Linked DNA regions of Homo sapiens. The protein of the gene in region 2 purifies or fractionates together with the protein of the main gene of each other region. This does not show direct contact. Each region holds a gene or a part of one and is shown on either strand. Other genes may lie near its edges.

Evidence for each region.
Region 1: the proteins of TMEM218 (region 2) and TMEM231 purify together in Homo sapiens (affinity purification with mass spectrometry; one large-scale study listed by BioGRID and IntAct). This does not show direct contact.

Annotation. Positions count from the first base shown.
Region 1 is NC_000016.10:75,542,614-75,546,439, forward strand, and holds part of TMEM231 (transmembrane protein 231), read right to left. Parts: intron 3,465-3,826; exon of another isoform or gene 3,342-3,464; coding exon 3,213-3,341; intron 2,883-3,212; coding exon 2,739-2,882; intron 71-2,738; coding exon 1-70. UniProt on the Homo sapiens protein: Transmembrane component of the tectonic-like complex, a complex localized at the transition zone of primary cilia and acting as a barrier that prevents diffusion of transmembrane proteins between the cilia and plasma membranes.
Region 2 is NC_000011.10:125,104,805-125,108,630, forward strand, and holds part of TMEM218 (transmembrane protein 218), read right to left. Parts: intron 1-3,826. UniProt on the Homo sapiens protein: May be involved in ciliary biogenesis or function.

The DNA.
Region 1 (3,826 bases), on a different chromosome or scaffold from region 2:
GGTAGGCAGCAACAATATGGGTGAGGTCGTAGTCATAGGCAAAGGGGCTGGTCCCGTTGATCACGGATATCTGGGACACGGGAGGAGGATGTGGTGTGAGCACCTGGGAGACTCCTCCCCTTTTCCTTCTACCCTTCTGCCCACCCAGGCTGGTCCCACAGAGCACCCTCTTGTTCTTGGTGGCCTACTGCAGTATCAATAATCTTTTCTTCAAAGATGAATAAAACAGGCTGCTGCCCACCCAGGCTGGTCCCACAGAGCACCCTCTTGTTCTTGGTGGCCTACTGCAGTATCAATAATCTTCTCTTCAAAGATGAATAAACTCTCTTGCAACAATTTAAGCCCATTTACTCTCAGTCTTTCTTTCTGTGGATGGAAATAAGGGGTCAGTGTCCATGTTTTACAGGTTTTAAAGCTATTTTTAAAATACCCCTCTTTATCTCAGCGGGAGAAAGAATTCCTTAAATTATTTTAACAGACCGTATTTTCGCCAGGTGTGGTGGCTCATGCCTACAATCCCAGTGACTTGGGAGGCTGAGGCAGGAGGACCACTTGAGGCCATGAGTTCAAGGCCGTAGTCAATGATGATCATGCCACTCACTACACTCCAGTTTAGGAAACAGAGAAAGACTTCATCTCTCAAAAAAAAATAAAAATAAAAAAAAATAAAAAGCCAGGCATGGAAGCTCACGCCTCTAATCCCAACACTTTGGGAAGCCCAGGCAGATGGATCACTTGAGACCAGGAGTTCGAGACCAGTCTGGCCAACATGGTGAAACCCCATCTCTACTACAAAGAAAACAAAAATTAGCCAGGCGTGGTGGCATATGGCTGTAATCCCAGCTATTCAGGAGGCTGAAATCAGAGGATCTCTTAAGCCTGGGAGACAGAGGTTGCAGTGAGCCGAGATCATGCCACTCCACTGTAGCCTGGGTGACAGAGCAAGACTCTGTCTCAAAAATAAAAATAAAATACAAATAAAAACCCCTACACAAAGACAAAAAAAAGAAACCATACTTCCAACTCCTTTGTCATTTTCTTGGTCTTTTCTGGGTGCTAAGTTCTTTATCACTTTTAAATATAGAGATATAGATAAAATGCAAACCATAAGCATATAATCCCTTAAAGGAGGAAATAATTGCTTGCTGTTAATGTAATCTGATATATAGACATTCAAACAAAAAGTGCCATATTCATTTCATATGTTGCAGCTTCCTATTCTTTACAACTTATATTGATTATAGTCAGAGCAACAGTAAAACCCACTATATATCTACAAGTCTGGGTTTATGGCTGTAATAACCGATAACATCCCTTTTTCATTTTCAGAAGTACCTCAGCTCAACTTCTATGGTCCCCATTGTGATAAAATAAAAGTGAGGAATGAGTGATTAGATGCATGAGTTCTGCACACAGACAGGCTCTGTTATCTTTCAAGATTTGAGCCTTTGGGAAAATTAATCACTTTAAGCCCCAGTTACGTCTTCTGCAAAATGAGTTCATTATTTAAACAAGTATCTCTGTGAGCTTACCATCTGCCAGGCAGTGTGCTAGGCACGGATGTGATAGTATTTGAGATGCCACTGCTGTCAAGGCTGAGGGAGACAGCAAATAAACACACAAACACATATCCTGAGTAGGCCAGGCGGCAGGAGGGAGAGTCTGGCTGAGGAATGGTGGAAGGAGGGGCTGCTACTGTAGAAGCAGGTCAGAGAAGGACTGGGCTTGGGGATATCTGAACAGGGACCTGAATGGCATGGTCCGATAAGCCACATGGATGCCTGGCAGAGGAAATGGCAAAAGCAAAAGCCCTGAGGTGGCAGCTGCTTCTTGGGTTTGAGGAACAGCAAAAAGGCCAGGGGGGCTGGAAGGGAGCAAGCGGGGGCAGTGATGGGACAAGTGGCTGGAGTGCGGGGAAAGGACAATGCAGGCAGCTCAGAGGTTGCCATGATGATTAAAGGAGATGATATAGGTAAACGCCTGCACTCAGGGGTGGCATATGTTATGAGTTCAGTAAACTATGGCTAGTAATATTTCTGAAATACTTTACATGAACATTTTACATCATCATTTTACAGTGTCCTTCGGAGTACATCCTGCGTGTGACCAAGCGTGTGTATGGAAGACACAATGTGTGTGTGTGCACCCACGTGGACCTAAAAGCAATAAGCAATTTAGTTCTTCGACAAACACAGATTTTGTTTCTCTTCCCTTCTAGGTGTAACTATGCGTGTACCTTCTCTGTAGTTTGAAAAAATTCATGGCAAGAATTCTACAGAGACCCTCTTTGGTGCCACCCACAAAGAAATGATATTTCTACTTTTCTTTTCTTTTTCTTTTTTTTTTTTTTTTTTTTTTTTGAGACAGAGTCTTGCTCTGTTGCCCAGGCTGGAGTGCAGTGGCGAGATCTCAGCTCACTGTAACCTCCACCTCCTGGGTTCAAGCAATTCTCCTGCCTCAGTCTCCCAAGTAGCTAGGATTACAGGCACGCACCACACGCCTGGCTAATTTTTTGTATTTTTAGTAGAGACAGGGTTTCACCAGGTTGGCCAGACTGGTTTCAAACTCCGGACCTCAAGTGATCCATCCGCACATCTCCGCCTCCCAAAGTGCTGGGATTACAGGTATGAGCCACTGCGCCTGGCCTGACATTTCTACTTTTCATTCCCCTCTTTAAAGAACTTAATGAACAGTAACACAGAGAAACAAAGGAGCTGGACAATGAGAAGCGCTCTTACGTTGTATCGGGCATCTAGGCCACCACAGCTCAGCGGCTGCTTCTGCTGCAGCCTCAGGTCTCCGTTCACGTATAACTGGGATCCCGGGACAGGAAAGGAGGACTGGAGAAACGCCATGCTCTGCATCACGAGGGTCGCCATCCTCTGAAATCATTAGAAGGACCAACAATACCAACCGCCATCAGATCTGAAGGGCTCTGGGTGCTAAGAGTCACCTGTCTTGGCTGAAACCTAAGAGGCCCTCACATACCTAGCGTAGCCATGCAGGAAACACTGCCTAGAACCTTCTGAGCTATTAATAGCCCATGTCAGTTAATATGACTAGTGAAAACCATTCCATTGGCCTAAGTTAAATCCCAAACTACATGGGGAAGAGGGCCCGCTAGAGTGCGGGTCTTCTAGAAATCAGAAGAAGGACTCTGGTCTACTAAAAAGACACAAGGGAGAGGACAGCCTCCCAGCGGACTGACTCACGTGTAATCGATAGGAGAAAGTCAGGATGAGCTGCACACCGAGAACGTGCTCCGTGGACTGCAGGGGAAGCTCCAGCTTAAAATGTAACATGTCCGTCTTCCCATCCTGGTTCCTGTCTTCTTCTCTAGTCTAGGAAACCCAAACAGGCCCAGCAGCCCTGGTCACTAATGAGTCTGGGAGGAATCCACATCACTTCTGTAAATACACAATGACCCACTGTCTTGCTGTACACAACAGGCATTATCTCCTCCACTAAAAGAGAAAAGCAGATAGATGTAAGTGCATTAATACTGGGGAGAGACACAAAGTGCATGGTCCCTGAACTTCATATCTGGGCCTTTCAAATGTTCACTGGCCAAAATAAATGGGCAATAACAAAAAACATCTGGATAGTATTTGTGCCTTTCAGTTGTCTCATGTGATCTTGCTTATTTTGCACTGATATTTTTTTCTTTTTTACAAATATGCCTGAATTTGTATGGAAATTTTAAGTAGCATGTCAGAATAGTCTTCTATGTCTCTAGAAGTCAACTTGTTAAAATAGAAAAACACCTAATCCTAATCATTATGCATTCCTCCAACAAACTCAAACTCAACAGAAAATCACCAAGCTC
Region 2 (3,826 bases):
TGCCTCATACAACAGCAAACACATAAATGTTCAATAAAATAGAACAAGAAGAATTTAGTACACAGCAGAGCTCGAAAGCAATAAAGAAAAATCATTAAGTGCTATAAAAAAATGTAACTCAAGGCCTGAGCTGAGCCTAAAAGTCTACGAGGGTCCTGGTGCCTGATACAGACCTTCAGGGTGATTCTCTTCAGGGCAGATAAGGTCTCAAGCCCACGATGGCAAAGAACTAGCAATGAGAACAATGCAGAAAGCTGGGCCCTCACAGGATTGACCAGTTTTTGAAATAGGGTCTAAATAATTTGCTACTGACTTAGTTGGAAGGAAGCTGGCTGAGTGCTTCAGGCCACAGGTCAAAAAACAACAGCCCAAGAGAAATCTGAATCCCCACCTCACATCATATCCATGTGTGAGATTCAATACTACCGATGTGATATGGGAATCCCAAATAGAAAGATTAACATGAAAACTAGACTAAAAGTGAGAACCCATTGGATCCCAGCAGAGACAAAACTAAACCCACAGGCTGGCATGCAAGACTCCCTCAAGAGTAAGTGTAAAACAAAGATGTTTTCAGACATACAAAGGGTGAAATGTAGTACACCTCTCAAGGATCCTCAGTGAAAGGGCTACTCAGAGACATACTTCAGCAAGAAGGAAAATGAACCAAGAAAGGAGGTATGAGATACAGGAAGCATGGTGAGAAAATTATTAAGAAATATTGACAGTAAAGATTTCTGTAATAATGACAATTTTTGAGGGGTTAAAAATCAGAAAGGACTAAATATTACTCAACAGTTATATGGTAGATGGAAAAGGATAGTTCAAAGTTAAAGCATTCTACAGTGATTTTGTTTTGGAGGAGGTATATGTTTTTTAAGCTAAGTACACAAGTTAAAAAAACATACAGGTAAACAGCAAGCAACAGAAATAGAAAAAATAGCTTCTATACTAGTAAAGTGAAAAAAAAATAAAGAAAACAGAAAGTGGGGCAAGGGTCAGTGGGTGTGAGGTGGGTGGCAGAACAAAGAATACGCAAGGAAAATGGAAAATACAAAATAAGATTGTAAAAATAAACCCAAATACAACAGTAATCATAGTACATGGAAACATTATATTTGACTACTAAAAGAAATTCTCTTAGATTTTTCTTTTTAAAAATAGCTGTGTACAAAAGCTCTACAGAAAGTATAATGAGAGGCTGAAAATAAAGAGATTGAGAAAGACATGCAAAGCAAATATTAACAAGACAAAAACCAGGGAAGGAGGGAATAGGGAGATGGTGAATGAGTATAGAGTTTCAGTTTTGCAAGATGAAAGCATCTTGGAGCTCTGTTTCACAACACTGTGAATATACTTAACACTGCTGATCTGCACTCTTAAAAATGGTTAAGACAGGAAATTCTGTTTTTTTGTTTTTGTTTTTGTTTTTTTATAAGCCACAGTTGAAAAAAAACCAAGTGAAACAAAATAAAATATAAGCTATGAAGCAATATTAGTACCACGCAAAACAGATGTAAAGCTCTGAAAAATATTAAGAACAGTGACAAAAGGAACCATTCAGTAAAAAGATACAACCTGAAACAAATGTGAACCTAACAACAAAACCTCCAAATATATAAAGCCAAAACTGACAGAAGTACTACAATAAATGTATAAAACCACTAATTTAGCAGGAGATTTTAATATATGTCTCAGAAACTGATAGATCAAGCAGATAAAAAAAGAATAAACACTTGAGAAAGAGGATACCTGAATGAGAATAAATATGTAAAAAGGTGCTCAACTTCATTAGTCATCCGGAAATTGCAAATTAAAACCAAATTCAGTGCCTTCATATACCCACCAGAATGGCTAACATGAAAACAACAGACAACAGCAAGTGTTGACAAAGATGTGGAGTAACTGGAACCCTCATATACGGCTGGCAAGGGCCATAATTTGTTAACCACTGCTTTGGAGACTATTGGCAGTATCTAATAAAGCTAAATATAAATGCATCCTACATCCAGCTCTTCTATTCTTAGGTGTATTCCCAACAGAAACGCACACCTAAATTCAAAAAAAAGACATTGCAGCCCTACCTGAAATAGCTAAAACCTTAAACAATCCAAATATCTGCCAATAGAGTGGATATAGTACTCTACAATCTATTCATTCATACAGTATATAAAGCATTATGTAGTATAAAGCAATGAGAATAGTATAAAGCAATGAGAAAGAACACACTACAACTATACTCAACAATGTGGATGAATTTCACAAATATTAAATGAAAAAAGCTAGAGGCTAAAGAGTTCATAGTATATGAGTCCATTTATATAATGTTCAAAACAGGTCAAACTAATTTTAGGGGCTGGAGGTCAGGCGTATGGTTGGCTTGTGAAACATAGTGACTGTAGGAGGTTCAGGGAGATGCTGATAAAATTCTGTTTCTTGATCTGGGTTTTGTTCACCTGGGTTTGTTCATACGGTGATGTTGTATCTAACCATGCACTTAGGATTTATATACTTTTCTGTATGTGTATTACCCTTCACTAAAATGTTTACAGAAAGAATATTAAGAGATGTATCAGCCATGTGTAGTATATGGACCCTTATTTGGTCCTGATTCGAACGAAGCATTGCAAAAACCTTTTATGAAATGATTGGGGAAATCTGAAGAATATTCAGATATTTGATAATATTATGAAATTACTGTTTGTATTTTCAGTGAAAAAACACTATTAAAAAGATGATATTATTATATTGTTAAAAGATTATTTATGATAAAGATATATGCATACACACGTAGCACATTACAGATAACAGAAAAGGGTTTCTAGGAGCTTTCTATTACCTCAGTGAGAGGAGGTGAAGGGGCTGACATGAAACAAGACTGGTCATGAGCTAGTTGTTGAAGCTGGGTGATGAGTGTGTAGATGTTTGCTAGCCTATTTTCTATATTTCTGAATATATTTTAAACTTTCATAATAAAAAGATGTGGATATGTGTGTATATATATATATATATCTGCATAAATATGAATATAAAAGATGAGTAAGATTTGTATAGCTAAAATTATAAAACTTTATCAAAGACAAAAAAAAAAAAAAGAGAGAGAGAGGACCTGAATAAAGAAATAAAGCAGACCTGAACAGAGAAATAACCTGTGTTCCCGGATGGGATGGTTCAATTAAAAAAATCTCAATTTTCCTTAACCTATAAATTCAATGCAATCCTAACCAAAGTCTAAAAACAATTTTTTGTGGAACTTGAAAACGGATCCTAAATTCATATGGAAGAGCAAAAACCCAAGAATAGCCAAAACAATTTTGAGAACTAGGATGGCAACTTGCCTTTCTTGTTACCAACTGCCGCAAGACACATTGAAAAACCAAAGTAATTAAAACAGTGTGATAGTGGCACAAAGACACATGGCCCAGTGGTATAAAATCAAGAACCCAGAAACAGATCCATGCATTTGTGAGAACTTCCTACAGCACAGAGTTGGCTTTATGATTCAATGGGTAAAGAACTTCATAGATAGTGTTGGGACAAATGATTCTCCAATAGGAAAAGAATAAAACTAGATCTCTATATGATATACAGAAGTTGATTTTAAATGGAAAGTAATTCGTAATGAAATAGCATATGTTTAAATATACAAATGTTCAGGCTGACTACACTAGAATACATAATGAAGTACAGTAGTCAGATGCTTGCACCTAAACTTAGAATCACCATGAATGCAAAAGCTTCAAATGCAGACTATGCAGGTGTGTTGTTCTGGCAACTCAAATACCACGAGCTGTGCTGCCTTCAGTTATGTGATTTGCTAGAGTGA